Homo sapiens: one gene and its partners. The protein of the gene in region 2 interacts with the protein of the main gene of each other region in a biochemical or structural test. Each region holds a gene or a part of one and is shown on either strand. Other genes may lie near its edges.

Region 1 (7,115 bases), on a different chromosome or scaffold from region 2:
ACAAAGGCCATTTTATATCTTATTTTTGTGTGAACTATATATTCTGATCTTTTGTCCACTGTTTTTTTCTATTGGGTTTCTGGTCTCTGTTCCCTGTTTTTATGAGTTCTTTATATATTGGGAATATTAGCCCTTTTCTTGCAAATTTTTTCTGTCAGTTGTCTTTTGACATTGTTAATGGTGTTTTCCAATAGTTTTTGGAAAAAGTCTTTGGCCATAAAAAAAGTTTTTTAAAAATTTTAAGTGGTTAGATTTATTGATCTTTCTTTTTTTTTCTTTTTTTAAGAGCCAGGGTCTTGTTCTGTTGCCCAGGCTGGAGTTCAGTGGCATGCTCATAGCTCACTGCAGCCTCAAACTCCCAGGCTTCAGTGATTCTCTCAACTCAGCCTTCTCAGTAGCTAGGACTGTAAGGGTGCACTGCCACACCCGGCCCTTATCTCCTTTTAATATATGCTGGAGAGCTAGGCCTAAACAAAAGGTCTATCTCTAGCAAATGACCTGAAAATAACTTCTCTTACATTCATGTTATCATTTCTATTTTCACTTTCTTTGTTTACCTTATTTACCTGTTTTATCTTGTATGCACTTTCCTAAGCCATGGAAAATTAATTATTTAGGTAAGCAAATTCATCACATTAACAAAACTAATTAGTGCTGTATCTATCCTACCAGTCTTGCATACTGTCAAAGGCATATCTGATTAGAAGCTATATTCTGGGATTAGTCTGATGCTTACCTTTTCTGCTACTTCTCGTACAGACTGAACACTTGTTCCATATAGATGATTGTTATACTGGCCAGCTTCAATGAATTTATGTTCCTGGATATCTTTTTCCATCTGCTCTCTTGAAGTCACAAAATGATAATCTCTTCCATCTACCTCATAATCTCGTTTTGGTCTAGTTGTATCTTTAACAGAAAAAAACTTGGGAAAGTGTTTAATATTAAAAAAAAAACCACAATAAATCCATTTTCTACTTACATCGTTTTGTAAAGTTCAACAGAACAGATTAATTTAAATCTGAGAAAGGACAATAATATGGAGGATGGAAGAGTAACTGATAAAATAAGTACAAACCATTAAAAAATGGTTATATCTATTTTTCCCACACACAGTGACAGGAAATGTTAAGAGTAACAATTAAATGTTTTTGTTTGGTTTACTTACGAGGAACACAGGATCCAAATTTGTCAGGAAATTCTGAGATCAAGTCATCATTTATCCTGTCTTTCATAGGTCCCAATATGATCACTGGTCGAGTATAATTAACTATAAAGATAAACTGCATGTTAAAAGGAATAAACATTCAACAAATATCAATGTATTTTATTTCACCAGCGAACAAAAATATCCTTAACTGTTATGACTAATTTTTTTCTTCCCTCTCCATCTCACTCTACCATCAACCAAAGATGCGTAACTTGCTCTTTTATAATCTTGACTCAGATCTTAAACTTTACTTAGTCTTCTGCTAGAAGTCATATTGATAATTCAATCAAGTTAAATTTGGTGTTTTCGCAGATAATGTTTCTTTACATTGCAAATGACAGAATAAAGTCTAGTGTTTTACAGATGGCTTTGAAGTAGAAATTGTAAGGAAGCAGAGCAAAGAAGGGCAGAACAGAAACTGGATGTAGGAAGTGATATAATCCCAGTAGTAGCATTCTAGAAAGATGATCTAACAGAAGTGTAAACTCTGGGTGGTCTGGGATCATGCTGGAATAATGGAGATTGGTAGTGAGACTGAGAACTAACATTGTGATAGAAGGGATGAAAAGAAGGTCATAAATAAGAAAGAAGTGGGATAAACAGTGCCTGGAACCTAACTGGATGAGGAGGAGGAGGAGGAACAGAGAAGGCTCAAAGATACTTCCAAGATTTTCAAAAAAGGGTTATTTGGAAGATAGTGATGCTAACAAGAACACTGGAACAAAGTTGCTTGGGAAATAAAACACAAATATAAAAGTCAGTATGAAATGACTAGATTCTAATATTCTGTGGAGTAAACTATGTTTCATAAAACACATGTAGTAAATTTCTACATGTATATGTAGTAAAAAAAAATTTTAATACAACATTTTTTGGGGTATGAGAATTTTTTTCCCCCAAATTAAAAAGTATATTCTTCTAGAAGGTTATAAAACATCAATAGGCTTCACAAACCTTCTTGTTGATTCACTGGTTCATAAGATAAGACGTATTCTTCTTGACCACCTATTAGAAAGTGAAGGCACAGATGAAAAATGTGTAAAGATAATTGATGCTAATCTAATTCTTCATAAACAACATATACATTACTAGAACTTTCCTGAGAAAATGGCAAAGATATGGAAAGAGGTACTTTATGGCAAGATTTAGTTAAAAAAAAGTGTCAAATTATAAAGTCTTAAAAGTGAGTTTGCTAAATGTAAAACAAAATACAAATGGGCTATATAATCAATATTATATTTTATAGATAATCAAATCTAAAAATCTTCATTTGTGATGCTATGTGCTACTCCTTTATTTAGAATCTAAGAATTATTAAATCTGTTAAAGATTAATGCTTTAATGAGCAGATCTGTCTATCATCTATCTACGTATTAGGTAATTTGTTACTATTAAAAACATGCTACTTTTTTTGTTCCACCAACTACAATACTGAATACAGTATATTTTATTTTTAAAATAATTACATCTTAAAATTAAAAATTATAAATGCAAAGGTAAAACTACTGTTACTATTTCACTGATGAAAAATTCACTAACTCAACTTTGTAAAAAAATAATAAATTTAATGTGAGTCAAAAAGAGCTTTAGATAAAACTAAATCCTTCCAAGAAAATAAACAACAGTGATAGTAAAGGAGATAAATATATTTGCTTTGACCTTAAAAACACAAGAAGTTAAAGCTTCTAAAGGTTAAATTAAAGGTTCGGAGCTTAGGAAATACTCTAAATAAAAGAGTCTACAAATTATATCTGAATATCTGAATCCAGTGAAAAGAAATAAATAGTTAAAAACTCTGAGAGTTTTTTTTTTTTTTTTTTTTTTTGAGACGGAGTTTCGCTCTTGTTGCCTAGTCTGGAGTGCAATGGCATGATCTCAGCTCACTGCAGCCTCCAACTCCCGGGTTCAAGCGGTTCTCCTGCCTCAGCCTCCCAAGTAGCTGGGATTACAGGCATGTGCCATCATGCCCAGCTAATTTTGTATTTTTAGTAAAGATAGGGTTTCTCCACGTTGGTCAGGCTGGTCTCGAACTCCTGACCTCAGGTGATCTGCCCGCCTCGGCCTCCCAAAGTGCTGGGATTACAGGCGTGAGCCGCCGCGCCCGGCCAAAAACTCTAGGAGTTTTAAACTAACACACACACATCCCCCCTCACCCCCACGCCTAAAATTAGAAAAGACTGTGTTAACCCAAGTGGTTCAATGAAAGCAATCAATATTGGATAATGTATTTGAAGACTTTCTCTTTAATTATCAAGATCCTATAACAATTTTACCATGAATTTTGCAATTGGTTTATATTATATGTATGTAGCTGTAGGTCTTTTAAATCCATACATTGGCATAAACATTCTTTTCTGTTTTAGAAGTATTTCTTTGTTTTCAATTTTATTATCAAAGTACATAAGACCAATATTTTATAAGCTGTTTTTTAAAGTACTGGATGTGAAACATGGCTTACATACTAGCAAACACATGCAATTTGAATATTTCACACCTTAATAATTCATGCAAATGGTGAGAGACAGTATATACTTTCATTACCTCTTTTTAGCCTAGAAAGCCACTCAACTACCCTATAGTGGGTTCTGGTTATAATTAATAAAATGCTGAAATACAGGAAATCATTTCCACACCAAAAAAAAAATCATTAAGTAACTATTGTGTAGAAAAATAATCAACCAAATGAATGACGGTTAAAAGTATATACTGTCAACATGAAAAAGTATTAGGGACTGATATTAACAGGATGGACCTTTTGAGCAGCCATACTCATCTGTAATCAAGATTACTTTCATATTAGACAGCAGTAAAAAAAGAAAGTTAGAAAAGTAATTTTAATTTTTAAGGTGCTACAACTGATATTATGTACCCTCCCCTTCTCCCATGCCCAAGTCTGTTTTAAAACATCACATGCTTGTGCAGTTCACTTAATAAAACCAAGAATGTAATATAAAACAGCAAAAGAAAAATTAGTATTATTTTTCAGGTGATCATTGAAAATGTTTCCTTATTTCTTCCGTTCACCAAGTGCTGGTGATAAACAATGACATGACCCAGATCAGTATTGGTGACAAAGAATAAAAATGGAAATAAAGCTAATGATAATTTAGCATTACTGAAAAATATTATTTTAGTGCTCATGTTAAAACCAATTACTAAACAGAAGGTCAAAATACAAGTTTTCCCCCATTTAACTAGATATTTACTTCTTACAAAAAATACATATACATATACATATGTATCATGTACACAAATAATATTTTTATTTTATTAAAATTTTATAAATTAACCTCTACATATATAGTATGATTTTATTTTTCAAGTACAGAATTTTACTTGTCTCTCCCTGATTTTAAAATAACGATCATATAACTTCAGGTTTTTATAACATATCACTCAGAATCCCTCCACCCCTGCAGAGGATGTATTACTCGAGATTACAAAAGAACAAGTAACTTAAAACACTTACGGTAACTACTTTCACTATCGCTGGCATTAGAAGTTACATGCTCTGAAATTGCAGGACAATGAAAAAAAATAAAACAGTGTCATGAGTTTAAAAAGCAAATAATCAAAATGAAATGTTGAGATATAAGCCATATATAACAAAATAATTTTTTAAAAGCATTTTCTTTTTCTTTGAAACGTTTAAGTTTTTCAAATAATAAATATATATTAGCAAAGGAAAACTCCTGTAATTAAGGACAATGCCTTATTTTTGTACAACACAGTTTATGAACAAATCTATTATAAATAGCAAGTAGAATATGACAAAAAGGGCTAAGTGACCCTGAATTAGTCCAAATGTAGACATAAAACTCAAAGGAGAAAATACTGTTGGCACTATTTCAGTTTTTGAAACAGCGTTAACTGGCAAAGGGGACAAACTATATTTAAACAAATAGATGCCCATTTTAATGACGGGATGTCTTTGTAATTAAAAATAAATAGATGATCTTATTTTCAATCCAGCTTTGCTCCTGTTTCTGAAGATGAAAATCCATGTTTCTGAGATCATATAGATAAAGGATTGTAAAGGTCATAAATTCAGATGTCTCAGCTGGAAGGGAAGGCACTGATGGTGGCAATTGCATTTTAAAACCAACTAATATTAGAAGTCATAAATTCAGATGTCTCAGCTGGAAGGGAAGGCACCGATGGTGGCAATTGCATTTTAAAACCAACTAATATTTCTTAGAAACTCTGCTTTGATAAGACTGGCACTGGCTGGCTTTTGCAAAACATAAAAAAGACAATGAGAACAAACACACCCAGCCAGAAACTGCCTGGCCCTCCTTAAAAGTGACTCCATTTCACGACTTTATTGTTTGGTAAAACCATAGGCACTCTTCTCATCCATGTAAATGTCATCTCAAGTTTTCTCTCAATAAATATCTCCCTTCAATTAAACAAAGACTAATACTTTTATTTTTAAAAAATAAAAATAAAACTTTCAATGAGACAGGGAAATCTGAATTTTTATTTTAACTTTTTTTTTTTTTTTTAATTAAAGGGACAGGGCCTCACTCTGTTGCTCAGGTGGGAGTGAGGTGGTATGACTATAGCTCACTGCAGCCTCGCCCTCCTCTCCTGGGCTTCTGTGATCCTCCCATCTTAGCCCAGAGTGGCTGGGACTACAGGTATGTACCACCATGCCCTGCTAAAATTTTGTTTTTTTTTTTTAATAAAAGAGACAAGTCTCAACTATGTTGCCCACACTGGTCTCAAACTCCTGGCCTCAAGGGATCCTCCCATCTCAGCTTCCCAAAGTGCTGGGATTACAGGTGTGAATCACCACACCCAGCTGGAAATTTCATTTTTTTTTTTTTTTTTTTTTTGAGATAGTCTCCCTTTGTTGCCCAGGCTGGAGTGCAGTGGCACGATCTCAGCTCACTGCAACCTCTGCCTCCTAGGTTTAAGCGATTCTATTCTTGTGTCTCAGACACCTGACTACCTGGCACTGCAGGTATATAGCACCATGCCCAACTAATTTTTCTATTTTTAGTAGAGACTGGTTTCACCATGTTGGCCAGGCTGATATTGAACCTCTGAGCTCACGTGATCTGTCTGCCTTGGCCTCCCAAAGTGCTGGGATTACAGGTGTGAGCCACCGCACCTGGCCAAATGGTAGGTTTTTTAAAAGCTCATATTAAAATATTTCTTTCCATGTCACCACATGGGCTTGACAGCAATAATTTAAAATTGGTGTATAATATTCTATTAGATTGATACATTATTTACCTCGCTATTTATTAGATATTTTTATTTGCTTTAAACTGTTTTTCACAAGTATCAACAATTATGAATGTCTTCATTTATATATACCTTTTAACTTTCTGTCCTATTTCCTTAAATTTCATACCCAGAAACACGCCACATTAAAAAAAGAGTTATTCTGTTTACATTAGTATTGGTATTACCCTCTGCAATCTCTAGTTTGTAAACTAAAGAAAAATTAGTTATTGCAATGGGGTGAAGGGAGGGGAGTGTAAGTGGGAGTACAGAAGAAACAGAATTGGCAAATGTTCAGTTGACAATTATGAAAGCTGGATAAACAAATACCTGCAGGGTTTATTTTTACTACTTTTCTACTATTGAATATATCTGATATTTATATAATAAAAAGTTTAAGTTACCAAAATCTCTTCACTGTCTTTTTTTTTTTTTTTTGAGATTTCTCCTACTCACCTCAAACCCTCTAAGACTGCCAAAAGCTACGCCACAATCAAATTCTGCAGGTTCTTTCAAATATCATTTCACTTAGCTCTTCTACAATAAAGCCTCACTACTCAAAGTATGGTCCTTAGAATAGCGTCATCATAATTGTTTGGAATGTTATTAGAAAAATAAAATGTTTTTCTTCTGATAATTGAAAATGTTCCTCTTCAAAGCATTTTACCAAAGA
Region 2 (5,488 bases):
CGAGACCAGCCTGGCCAACATGGTGAAACCCCATCTTTACTAAAAATACAAAACTTAGCTGAGTATGGTGGCTCATGCCTGTAATCTCAGCTACTCAGGAGGCTGAGGCAGGAGAATCGCTCGAACCTGGGAAGCGGAGGTTGCAGTGAGCCGAGATTGCTCCATTGCACTCCAGCATGGGCAACAAGAGCAAAACTCCGTCTCAAGAAAAAAAAATAATAATAAAAAATAAAAAAAAAATATATATATATATATATATATATGGTTACAAACTCTGTTGTCAATCTGGGCTGGGCCCGGGGCTGGAGGGACTGCAGGGAGGGAGGGATGGTCCCTCATCCCACCCCTCAGAGTCCCTCCTCTGCACCCAAACCCAACACCATCCAAGGGCCAAGGTGGCTGGCGTTGAGGGCCTCAAGGGGCCAGCCAGCTGGGCAGGGGAAGGCGCTAGGCTTGATGGGCTGGGTGGGGAGGGGTGCACAGAGAGGGACTGCATCTCCCTGTCCAGCAGGTAAAAACGGCAGAAAGTGAATTTGGTGTCTCCATCTGTCTCCATTTATAGATATTTACAAAAGAAAGTCATGAGCAACAGGCCACAGTCATGCAAAAGAAACGCACCCCCCCCTCCCCAAACTAACCCCCTGCCCACCCTGAAACCCCGAGATGTCCCCCGCCCAGCAGTCCAGCCACCTTCCCCAAGGTTCTGAGAGCAAAGAGGGCACGTCCTTGAAGAGTCAGTGGGGGAAGGGTGGTGGATCCGGGGACCTAGAGCCACCAGAAGTAGGCGCTGGCGGAACTCAGGCTGATCGGGGCCGAGCTCTTCCCAGGCCTGGGTGCTGGAGTCAGGAGGAAGGGGTCCCCCAGTCTTTGAAACCCCCACCTTCCTCCAGAAGGTCCACGGAGCCAGGGTTGGCTCTGTCCTGAGTGTGGGAGGGGGTGTCCTGGCATCCCACCCCCGGCAGAGGCTCTTGTGGGCAGTGGTGAGGGCCGGGCCTGGAGGTCAGATGGCAGACTCCCTGCGGTAGGAGATGTTGTCCAGCGGGAGGGAAGCCTGCATGCGCTCCAGGTCCAGGTGGCTGCCGAACTCCAGCATCCGGATGATGCCCGCCTCCTCCTTGGAACCCGCCTCCAGGCCCAGGCCTGCGGCCACCGCGGCCGCCGCAGCTGCCTCCTCCTCCATCTCCTCTTCCTCCTGGCTCATAAGGGCCAGCTCGTTCTCGTAGCAGAAGGCACTGGGAGGGGGCGGTGGGGCGGGCAGCACGGTGATCTTACTCTCCTGCAGCTCCCGGGCCGAGCAGCAGGGCGTGCCGGCCACCTCGTAGGTCTTGTGAAAACGTGAGTAGTCCACCTTGTAGTGGCTCTTCTCCTCGAAGACCACAGGCTCAAAGCGGTGGCCCCACAGGATCTCGCTGGCCAGGTAGGAGCTGCGGGCCTGGGTGGTCATGGCCGTGGCCTCCACCATGCCCTCCAGGATGACCACGATCTCAAAGTCCTCCGACTCCAGCTCCTCCTTGCCCATGCCATAAAGCGGGCTGTCCTCGTCGATCTCGTGGACAATGATGATGGGCGACACCAGGAAGATGCGGTCCAGGCCGATGTCATAGCCCACGTTGAGGTCCCGCTGGTCCAGGGGCAGGTACTCGCCCTCCTGGGTCATGTAGGGCTTGATGAGCTGGGCCCGCACGTGGGCCTCCACAATGTGGCTCTTGCGCAGGTTGCCCACGCGCCACATGAGGCAGAGCTTGCCGTCGCGCACCGAAATGACCGCGTGGTGGCTGAACAGCAACGTCTGCGCCCGCTTCTTGGGCCGCGCCATCTTGGCCATGATGGTGCCAATCATGAAGGAGTCGATGACGCAGCCCACGATGGACTGGACCACCACAGCGATGACTGCCAGCGGGCACTCCTCTGTCACGCACCGGAACCCATAGCCGATGGTCGTCTGCGTCTCCACCGAGAACAGGAAGGCACCCAGGAAGCCGTTCACGTGCATGATGCAGGGCTTGGGGGCCACCGGGGCTGCTCCGCCACCACCCGCCGCCGGGCCCCCCGCCGCAGGCACCCCTGGGCTGGCCTCCAGGTCACCGTGGAAGAAGGCGATACACCAGAAGAGGAGGCCGAAAAAGAGCCAGGAGACAAGGAAGGCCGCGGAGAAGATCATGAGCATGTAGCGCCAGCGCGTGTCCACGCAGGTGGTGAAGATGTCCGCCATGTAGCGCTGCGACTTGTTGCTCAGGTTGGCGAAGTACACGTTGCATTGGCCGTTCTTCTTGACGAAGCGGTTGCGGCGCTTCCGCCGGGGCACGTGGGCCTGGCCGTTGCGGCTGTGTCCGTGCATGTCCTGAAGCCGGCGTGGTCACCTGGGAAGACGCAGGGCCTGCGGAGGAGAAGCCGGACAGGTGAGATGCTGGGGAGCGAGGGGCTCCCTCGGGGCCACTCAGACTCAGCCCCAAGACTCTCAGAAGCAGGTGAGCCTGGACCAGGACCTAAGACTTCCTCTGCCCCGGCAGGCGGAGGGTGGCAGCAGAGGTGGCTCTGATGACAGGGTCTGAGCCAGTGCCACCCAGTCCGGCCCAGCTTAGAGACTGGGGTCCATAGACCAGGAAGCTAAAGCCACAAGGATCCAGGTCCTAGTCCCTGCCCCTCAACACTGCCCCTCCGGCCCTCCTATGCTCACTGTTCTGGAAGCTTCCTGATGCCCATCTTGGTTCCTCCCTGTCCCTCTGTCCTGCTTGCCCTGAGCATAGGGAGCCACGGAGGCGCTAAGCCCGCTTCCCTCCCTGGATTCCATCTCTGCACTTTTGGGCTTCTCGGGGGCTGGACATCCTCCTGTGCACTAGCCACTGGCCACGTGTGGCTCTTTACATTTAATTAAAACGAAATAAAATATTAACTGCAGCTCCTTCCTTGCATGAGCCACATTTCAAGTGATCAGGAGCCACATGTGGTCAACGGCCACCACACTGGACAGAGAAGACACAGGAGAGTTCTATCACTGAGAAATTTCTGGCTGGGCACAGGGGCTCATGCCTGTGATCTCAGCATTTTAGGAGGCCGAGATGCAAAGATTGTTTGTGCCAGGAGTTTGAGACCAGCCTGGGCAACAGAGTGAGACCCCATCTCTACAAAAAATAAGAAAATTAGCCAGGCATGGTGGTGCATGCCTCTGGTACCAGCTACTCAGGAGGCTAAGGCAGGAGGATCTATTGAGCCCAGGGGGTCAAGGCTGCAGTGAGCTGTGATCATGCCACTGAACTCCAACCTGGGTCACAGAGCAAGACCCCATGTCAAAAAAAAAAAAAAAAAAAAAAAGAAAGAAAAAGTTCTACTGGGACCCGCAGCCCCACCTGGGTCTGAGCTCCTTTCTTAGACTCTTCTCTCCCAGTGTTGCTTTGAGTCCTTGAGCCCAAATTCCTGCCCAGTGCCCACACTTGTTAGGAGCAGTGGTGAGGGGAGAATCCAATGTGACAGTCAGGGTGGAGGAAGGGGGAGCCCCCAGCTCTGACTCCTCTGTAGACATCGCTATTCCCATGTCCCAGGTGGCTCAGAGATGGAAAGCCACCTGCCAGCCACAAAGCTGGCAGTGGATACAAACTTGCGTGGCACCAACATGAATGAGTTGATGGCGGGGAGACAGGGAGTGGGAGGGGAGGACACACCTCGGGCAATTCAGTTCACCTCTCAGAGCCTCCATGTCTTCATGTAACATGGGCACCAAAACTCCCTACCTCATGGGACCTACGGGGACAGCAGGTGCTGGGGTAAAGCCATCACCCTCCTGCCTTCCTTCCCACACTTCCCAGGAGCTGGTGACAGGCAGGATTTGCCTGTCAAGCATCCCCAGCTGTTGCAGCAGAAGAGGCCCCTCACCCCACTGGGTGGCGGGATGCGCCTCGGGCCCGTAGAGGACAGACCTTCTCTCCACCCCTCTCTGCCATTGCGTCCCCAGGGAAGACATGCTGCTGCCCCAGGCCCCAGCAGCTGGCAGGGCCAGGACTGGGCCTGGGTTCCCAATAACATTTTGGCCCAGAATTACATAAGGCTGGAAGTTTCTATTTTCTGTTCTATTCTTCTTCCTGATCTAATTGTGCATCTGTGGCAATGTTTATACACTTCCCCGGTTCAGGACAACTCGGTTGCCGCAGCAACCGGTACGCGCCAACGCTATAATTTAGAGATCAACAGCCTCAGAGCCTGCCTCTTCCCAAGAGAAACTCCCTCTCCGGGCCCAGGGAGAGTGAGCCCTGCCCCCACCTCCTCCCCCGCGGTCACCCACCCTGACTCCGAGTTCTTCTCCCTATTCCCCTGGTTCTCAAAGAGCTCCCTGGCTCCTACAGTCCTGGGTTGAAGTCCTAGATCCACTGTGTGACTTGGGCGAGCTGTTGACTACTCTGAACCTCAGTTTCCTCATCTTGAAAATGGGGCTGACTGGGTGCGGTGGCTCACGCCTGTAATCCCAGCACTTTGGGAGGCCGAGGCGGGTGGATCACCTGAGGTTGGGAGTTTGAGACCAGCCTGACCAACATGAAGAAACCCCGTCTCTACTGAAAATACAAAAATTAGGCCGGGCATGGTGGCGTGTGCCTGTAATCCCAGCTACTGGGGGGCTGAGGCAGGAGGATCGCTTGAACCTGGGAGGCAGAGGTTGCAGTGAGCCGAGATCGTGCCACTGCACTCCAGCCTGGGCAACAAAGTGAGACTTCGTCTCGAAAAAAAAAGAAAATGAGAAAATTGGGCCAATGAGATATCATGCTGGAGACCCGACAGGTCATGCAGGCACGGCCTCTAACGTAATGCTGGCCCTTCAGAGCTGGGAGGCCCAGACCCTCTTTGCCCCCTCCCGCAGCATCCCAGCAGCCAGGGCTCCAGGAGAAAGGCTTGGGGTTCTGGGGCCAGGCACACCTTCTGCTCTGTAAATAGAGTTTTCAGGGAGGCCTTTCTTTGCTAAATGTATTCCCCCTGTTCTGTCCCACTGCCTGAAATGGCTCCAGGGGCACCGCGGACTGTCAGGACAGGAGGAGCATAGGGTCACCGAGTTCAGGACCCTCATTTTATATCGGAGACCAAGGACATCCAGAGATAGGAAGGACTTGCTAAGAGTCCCAGAGTGGAGCCAGGTGGGCCAGCCCTGAACAAGGCCTCACCCCCACCCCAGAGCTCCTCATCCACTTCCTCCCTGCAGGGGGCTGGAGTGGGTTTTGGGGCAAGGGAAGAGAAGAAACCAGCCAGTCCAAACTGGACCACCATCCACAGGTGTGCAGGATAGAGGCAGAGGGGACAGGGTGTGGCGGCCCAGGCCTTCAACGGGTGAGGTCACTGAGCTCCAGAGAAGGTGGGGGGCCCTGCCCAAGGCCAAACACAAGCCCAGGGTTCCAGGGGATCCCTGGTTCTCTGCCCGGTGGGATTGCCTCCTGACATGGCGAGTTCACCTGGTGCTGCAGACGAGATCTCTTCCTGGACTTCCCCACCTCTGGAGGGGCCTTGGGGG
Region 3 (7,115 bases), on a different chromosome or scaffold from region 2:
CCAGGCCTGGCCTTCAAGGGCCCAGGCTGGCCCTGGCTTGAGGTCTGCACACACAACGGGCCTCTCGAAGCAGCGGACAGACACTTGTTGGCTGCCAACTTGGGCCCAGACTGTGGTCACAAACACACCCCTCTGGCTGAGAACAGGATCAGGACATTTCTGCAAACCCCTGACCTAGTAGAAGAAATGTTCTAGGAGGCAGGTTGGGGTTGCTGAGGCTCAGCTGAGCCCCCAACTTAGGCCAGGGAAGTAAGGCTCTAGCTGACACCTGGAGTTTGCTGGTAATGCTTGTTCTCCCAGGACATCCTCAGGGGATTCACTATCCACTGAGCTGGAAAAATATCCAGTTGCCTTGCCAAGTTCACATCCAAAGGACAGGCCATCCTTCCATGGCCCCTTGGAGGCGTCCTCAGTAATGGGATGTGAGTGGGGAAATGTTGAACAATGTGGTCAGTGATTCAACTCCGGGGAAACCTAGGCCCAGAGAGGGTCCCAGGAACCCTGGCTGCTCCAGACTGGTGCAACTGCCAGGCCCAGACCTTCTCCACTCCCCAAAGTCTCAAGGACCAGCCACAGCCCAGCATCCTCCTATCCTTCAGACCTCTCTGATCACTCTTGCCATTCAGAGATTCCTGACTCCAGTGCCTTCCACCACTCCTCCTCCCCTCTTTGTGCTATCTTGAGTGGAATGACCTCCTTCCATGAGATCTTGGGCCAGGAGAATAGGTCGAAAAAGACTTCAACTAAGGAAAAGTGGGGAAAAACATGAAGGCCACATTCTTCTTTCTCTTACCCAGGCCATAGGCAGGGTTCACCAAGGAATGATCTCGTCCTGTGAAACATCTCAGAGAATATAAGAGCAGGGGCCCCTCAGTCCTGGGATGATACACATGTTACTTCTCTACTGCATCTGTAGTAGACATTGCTAATCAATTCCAGCTCCTTTCTGCTGAGCCCAGACAAAGCCTCCCAATCCTTCCAAATATGGAACTCACAGAACCACCAGTGGAGCTGACGCTTACACTCTTTTTTTTTTTTTTCCTACAGAGATGAAATCTCACTGTGTTGCCCAAGCTGGTCTCGAACTCCTGGGCTCAAGTGATCTGCCCACCTAAGCCTCCCAAAGTGTTGGGATTACAGGCGTAAGCCACCACGCCTGCCTGGAGCTGCCACTCTAAATAAAAGCTATTGATCACCTCTGATCTAGCCTAACTTCAATAGGAAAACTGAGTCCCCTAGAAGGCAAGGGTCTTACCCAAGGCCAAACAGAGATTTATTGCAGAGCAGACAGGATTTCAGGCACCAGCTTTTTTTTTTTTTTTTTTTTTTTTTTTGAGATGGATTCTTGCTCTTGTCGCCCAGGCTGGAGTGCAGCGGCACAATCACGGCTCACTGCAACCTCCGCCTCCCGTGTTCAAGATTTTCCTACCTCAGCCTCCTGAGTAGCTGGGATTACAGGCACGCGCCACCATGGCTCAGCTAATTTTTGTATTTTTAGTAGAGACGGGGTTTCGCCATGTTGGCCAGGCTGGTCTCAAACTCCTGGCCTCAGGTGATCCACCCGCCTCAGCCTCCCAAAGTGCTGGGATTACAGGCGTGAGTCACAGCACCTAGCCACCGGCTTTTAAAGAGTTTCTGTAGGCCAGGCATGGTGGCTCACGTCTGTAATCCCAGCACTTTGGGAGGCCCAGGCAGGCAGATCACTGAGGCCGGGAGTTCGAGACCAGCCTGGCCAACATGGCAAAACCCTGTCTCTACTAAAAATACAAAAATTAACCAGGCCGTGGTGGTGCACACCTGTAATTCCAGCTACAGAACTGAGGCAGAGAATCGCTTGAACCTGGGAGAAGGAGGTTGCAGTAAGCTGAGATCGCACTACTGCACTCCAGCCTGGGCAACAGAGTGAGACCCTGCCTCAAGAAAAAAACACAGTTTGTGTAGAGGAGATAGTGTTTATGTTTTGTCTACCCTACCACATGGTGAGCTCCTTCAGGAGAGGCCCTGGGTGTAGTTTAGCTTCTGACCTTAATATACACAGCAGGCACACAGTAGATGTCCATGAATGTCTCTTGGCTTAGTGAGGAGGAATGCATGACATGAGTTAGAGGGAAGGCTTGAGTATTCACTCCTAAAGTCAGAAGATGCTTCAAGGTCACACATTTACAGATACTACCTTCTCAAAACGACATACATGGGAACCCAGATAGATACATTTTTAATCTAAAGATGAGGAGGTGGGCCGGGCGCGGTGGCTCACGCGTGTAATCCCAGCACTTTGGGAGGCCGGGGCGGGCAGATCACAAGGTCAGGAGATCGAGACCATCCTGGCTAACACGGTGAAACCACATCTCTACTAATAATACAAAAAATTAGCCAGGCGTGGTGGCGGGCACCTGTAGTCCCAGCTACTTGGGAGGCTGAGCAGGAGAATGGCGTGAACCCGGGAGGCGGAGCTTGCAGTGAGCCGAGATCCCGCCACTGCACTCCAACCTGGGTGACAGAGCAAGACTCTGTCTCAAAAATATAAATAAATAAAAATAAAAAATAAAGATGAGGAGGTGAGGGGACCTCCGTGTGAATGTGGATTTGAATTGTGTCTATAGCAGAAATTTTACCATAGACTAAACTTTCAAACAACAGAAGCTAAAAGAGCTTTCAAGTCAACTAAAATATGACATTTCGATGAATGTCAGTGGTTTCAAACCGCATTGCTGACTATAAATATCAAAGTAATGAGGCATGTGGGGAAAGTCTCTTATATCCATATCATTTATGTGGCATTCTATTATTTAACTTTGCCATTAAAATATGATTGATACACTTAAGCTTCTAAGGATCAACACTCTAGAGTCAGCTTTTTTTAAGTATCAAAAAAATGCATCTAGACTGGGCACTGTGGCCTGCAATCCCAGCACTTTGGGAGACTTAGGTGGGAGGATCCCTTAAGCCCAGGAGTTGGAGACCAGCCCAGGCAACATGGTGAAACCCTGTCTCTACAAAAAATTGGCTAGGTGTGGTGGCTCACGCCTGTAATCCCAGCACTTTGGGAGGCCGAGGCAGGCAGATCACGAGGTCAGGAGTTCGAGACCAGCCTGGCCAATATGGTGAAACCCTGTCTCTACTAAAAATACAAAAAAAAAATTAGCCAGGCGTGGTAGTGCGCACCTGTAGTCCCAGCTACTCGGAAGGCTAAGGCAGAAGAATCGCTTGAACCTGGAAGGCGGAGGATGCAGTGAGCCAAGATCGCGCCACTGCTCCAGCCTGGGCGACAGAGTAAGACTCCATCTCAAAAAAAAAAAAAAAAAAAAGCTAGGCGCAGGGGCTCACACCTGTAATCCCAGCACTTTTGGAGGCTGAGGCAGGTGGATCACAAGCTCAGGAGTTTGAGACCAGCCTGGCCAATATGGTGAAACCTCATCTCTACTAAAAATAAAAAAATTAGCCGGGCATGGTGGTGGGTGCCTGTAATCCCAGCTACTCAGGAGGCGGAGGCAGAAGAATTGCTTGAACCCGGGAGACGGAGGTTGCAGTGAGCCGAGATCATGCCACTGCACTCCAGCCTGGGCAACAGAGTGAGACTCCATCTCAGAAAAAAAAAAAAATTAACCAGGTGTGGTGGCATGCATCTGTAGTCCCAGCCACTCAGGAGGTTGAGGTGGGAGGATTGTTTGAGCCCCGGGGGGTGGAGGGTGCATTGAGCCAAGATCATACTACTGTACTCCAGCCTGGGTGATAGAGCAAGACCCTGTCTCGAAAAAAAAAAAAAACAAGAAAAAAAAATGCATCCATGGCATTTAAATAGATATACCTAAAATATAAAATAAAACTTTACATTTTATTTTCTTTATTTAAATTTTATTTTATTTTATATCTGGGTCAACCAAGGACCGAGAACCTATTTGCTTCTGTGGCCTCTTGGACACTCCTTTAGGGAAACCAAGGCAACCCACCAGGATTTGGGCCTGGGACTCAACTCAGCAGCTTCTCTGGCCGTGTTATTCTCCATCAGCCCCCGCCACCTCCCTGTGCCTGTTCTGGGCCATAAGCCAGAGACACATTCCTCAGGCCCCCACGGGGCTTCCAGAGCTGACAGAGTTTGAGGAAAGGGCTGAGCAAAGCAGAAACCTCTTGAGAGACATGGCACAAGATGGTCATGGGACAACCTCAGCAGGAGGCGTGTAACAACTGATGGGGAAACCGAGGCCCACAGAGGGCAAGGGTCCCACCCAAGACCACACTGTGAGGGAACAGTGGAGAAAGCCATTCAACCAAGGTTCCTCCACAAAACTCCTCTCTGATCCTGGCTGGAAGGATTTGATGTCCTACTCTATAAAAGCCAAGGCCTCTGGGCGTGGTGGCTCATGCCTGTAATCTCAGCACTTTGGGAGACTGAGGTGGGTGGATCACCTAAGGCCAGGAGTTCAAGACTAGCCTGGCCAACATGGCAAAACCCTGTCTCTACAAAAATATAAAAATTAGCTGGGCATGGTGACGCACACCTGTAATCCCAGCTACTTGGGAGGCTGAGGCAGGAGGATCACTTGAACCCAGGAGGCAGAGGTTGCGATGAACCAAGATCATGCCACTGTATTCCAGCCTGGACAACAGAGCAAGATTCCATCTCAAAAAAAAAATAAAGTAAAATAAAAGCCAAGGCTTCTCCCAAAGGAGGATGGGTCTTGGGGTTTTAAGGCCCAGGCACTAAAAGAACCTGAAGTCAAGAGCTCTCCAGGCCCCACAGGAAAGAATCTGACCTGCCCCTTCCCCAGTCCGCACCCCTCTCTCCCTGTGTCACTCAGGTGCTGGCACACTCTGCCATGTACATTTTTGCCCTAGTCGCAACAACCCAGAAAGGCAGGAGCTACATCCCTGTTTTACAAATGAGGAAACTAAGGATCAGGGAAATGAAGTGACTTGTCCAGGGCTACACAGCTAGTGACTGGAAGACAGAAAATGCAAATCAGGTCTGCTTGGCTCTATGCCAACTCTCCCTCCACCACCCCACACTGTCTTCAGGCAGGTCCCCAAATTCTGTTTCTGTTTTCAGTCCTGCCCACCTCCCAGCCCCCAGTGCTGGGATGGGGCCTTCTGAGGCCTGGGGGAGGTAGAGAAGCAGTGGAACACCTCCACCCAGCCCCTCTGAACCCTGGAACGTCAGTGCTTACCCTCCAGCACCACCTCCTTGCCTGTCTTCTTGAGGACCTGCACCGCCTCATCATGGGTAGCAGAGGACAAGTCTTCCCCATTCACAGACAGGATGGCATCCCCCACAAAAAGGGCCTCTGTCTGGTCAGCTGCCAATCCCTTGAAGATCTTGGAAATGAGAATAGGCATCTTGTTCTCCCGGCCGCCTGCACAGGTACAGAAGGAGGACAAGACTTAGGCAGATACTCCAACACTTGGGAGTCACATCAAGACACAATTATTTCTGAAGGCTTCCCTTGGTGCCTAGCCCAGTGCTGGAAAAGGCAATGGGAGAATAAAGGGAATCTGAGAAAAATCTTGGAAGTTTGGGACACTAGTAACACTAATAATAAATCATTTTTGATTAGGTCCGGTGGCTCATGCCTGTAATCCCAGCACCTTAGAAGGCTGAGGTGGGCAGGTCACCTGAGGTCAGGAGTTCAGGATCAGCCTGGGCAACATGGGAAAACCCCGCCTCTACTAAAAATACAAAAATTAGCCAGGCACCTGTGGTCTCAGCTACTAGGGAAGCTGAAGTAGGAGGATCACTTGAGCCCAGGAGGTCGAGGCTGCAGTGAGCTGAGATTGTGCCACTGCACTCCAGCTTGGGTGGCAGAAGGAGACCCTGTCTCAATAAATTAATTAATTAAATAAATCATTTTCAAAATTCATAATGCTATAGTTTGATCCCTGGATCTTTTGATTAAGTGCTTTGGGTGTTCACCAGTGTTTGTGCAACTTACAAAGTGCTTCAATCACTTTTTCTTAAATGTTTTCGATTTTCTCATGTAACCCATAAATATATATGCCTACTATGTACGCACAAAAATTAAAAATGAAAATAACCGGACAAAGTGGCTCACACCTGTAATCCCAACACTTTGGGAGGCCAAGGTGGTCGGATCACTTGAGACCAGTAGTTTGAGACCAGCCTGGCCAACATAGCGAAATCCTGCCTCTACTAAAAACACAAAAAAGGGCCAGGTGCGGTGGCTTATGCCTGTAATCCCAGCACTTTGGGAGGCCAAGGCTGCCAGGTGGATCACCTAAGGTCAGGAGTTCGAGACCAGCCTGGCCAACATAGTGAAACCCTGTCCCTACCAAAAATACAAAAAATTAACTGGGCGTGGTAGCGGATGCCTGTAATCCCAGCTACTCGGGAGGCTGAGGCAGGAGAATCACTTGGACCCAGGAGGCGGAGGTTGCAGTGAGCTGAGATCACGCCATTGCTCTCTAGCCTGGGCAACAAAAGTGAAACTCTGCTCAAAAAAGTAAATAAATACATAATAAAAAAATAAACAAATAAAAAAATATGGCTGGGCGTGGTGGCTCACGCCTGTAATCCCAGCACTTTGGGAGGCCAAGATGGGCAGATCACCTGAGGTTAGGGGTTCAAGACCAGCCTGGCCAACATGGCAAAACCCCATCTCTTCTAAAAGTACAAACATTAGCCGGGCATGGGGGCGCATGCCTGTAATCCCAGTTACTCGGGAGGCTGAGTCAGGAGAATTGCTTGAACCGGGAGGCTGAGGTTGCAATGAGCCAAGATTGCACCATTGCACTCCAGCCTGGGCAATAAGAGCGAAACTCCATCTCAAAAAATAAATAAATAAATAAATAAATACAAACACAAAAAATTAGCTGGGCCTGGTGGCACATGCCTGTAGTCCCAGCTACTCAGGAGGCTGAGGCAGCAGAATTGCTTGAACCCAGGAGGTGGAGGTTGCAGTGAGCCAAGATCACACCACTGCACTCCAGCATGGGCGACAGAACAAGACTCCATCTCAAAATAAAACAAAAATACAAAAATTAGCCAGGCATGGCGGTGTGTGCCTATAATTCCAGCTACTCAGGAGGCTGAGGCACGAGAACTGCTTGAACCCAGGAGGTGGAGATTGCAGTGAGCCGAGATCGCACCACTGCACTCCACC

Evidence for each region.
Region 1: the proteins of KCNJ4 (region 2) and DLG1 form a complex in vitro, tested with the Homo sapiens proteins (2 studies listed by BioGRID and IntAct, with this or other methods).
Region 3: the proteins of KCNJ4 (region 2) and SNTA1 interact in a test that uses a peptide from one of them, tested with the Homo sapiens proteins (2 studies listed by BioGRID and IntAct).

Annotation. Positions count from the first base shown.
Region 1 is NC_000003.12:197,064,540-197,071,654, forward strand, and holds part of DLG1 (disks large homolog 1), read right to left. Parts: intron 4,722-7,115; coding exon 4,680-4,721; intron 3,999-4,679; coding exon of another isoform or gene 3,963-3,998; intron 2,216-3,962; coding exon 2,165-2,215; intron 1,271-2,164; coding exon 1,169-1,270; intron 926-1,168; coding exon of another isoform or gene 912-925; exon of another isoform or gene 910-911; coding exon 737-909; intron 1-736. UniProt on the Homo sapiens protein: Essential multidomain scaffolding protein required for normal development. Recruits channels, receptors and signaling molecules to discrete plasma membrane domains in polarized cells.
Region 2 is NC_000022.11:38,425,795-38,431,282, forward strand, and holds the end of KCNJ4 (inward rectifier potassium channel 4), read right to left. Parts: intron 2,378-5,488; 5' UTR 2,339-2,377; coding exon 1,001-2,338; 3' UTR 533-1,000; downstream 1-532. UniProt on the Homo sapiens protein: Inward rectifier potassium channels are characterized by a greater tendency to allow potassium to flow into the cell rather than out of it.
Region 3 is NC_000020.11:33,433,676-33,440,790, forward strand, and holds part of SNTA1 (alpha-1-syntrophin), read right to left. Parts: intron 5,352-7,115; coding exon 5,166-5,351; intron 1-5,165. UniProt on the Homo sapiens protein: Adapter protein that binds to and probably organizes the subcellular localization of a variety of membrane proteins. May link various receptors to the actin cytoskeleton and the extracellular matrix via the dystrophin glycoprotein complex.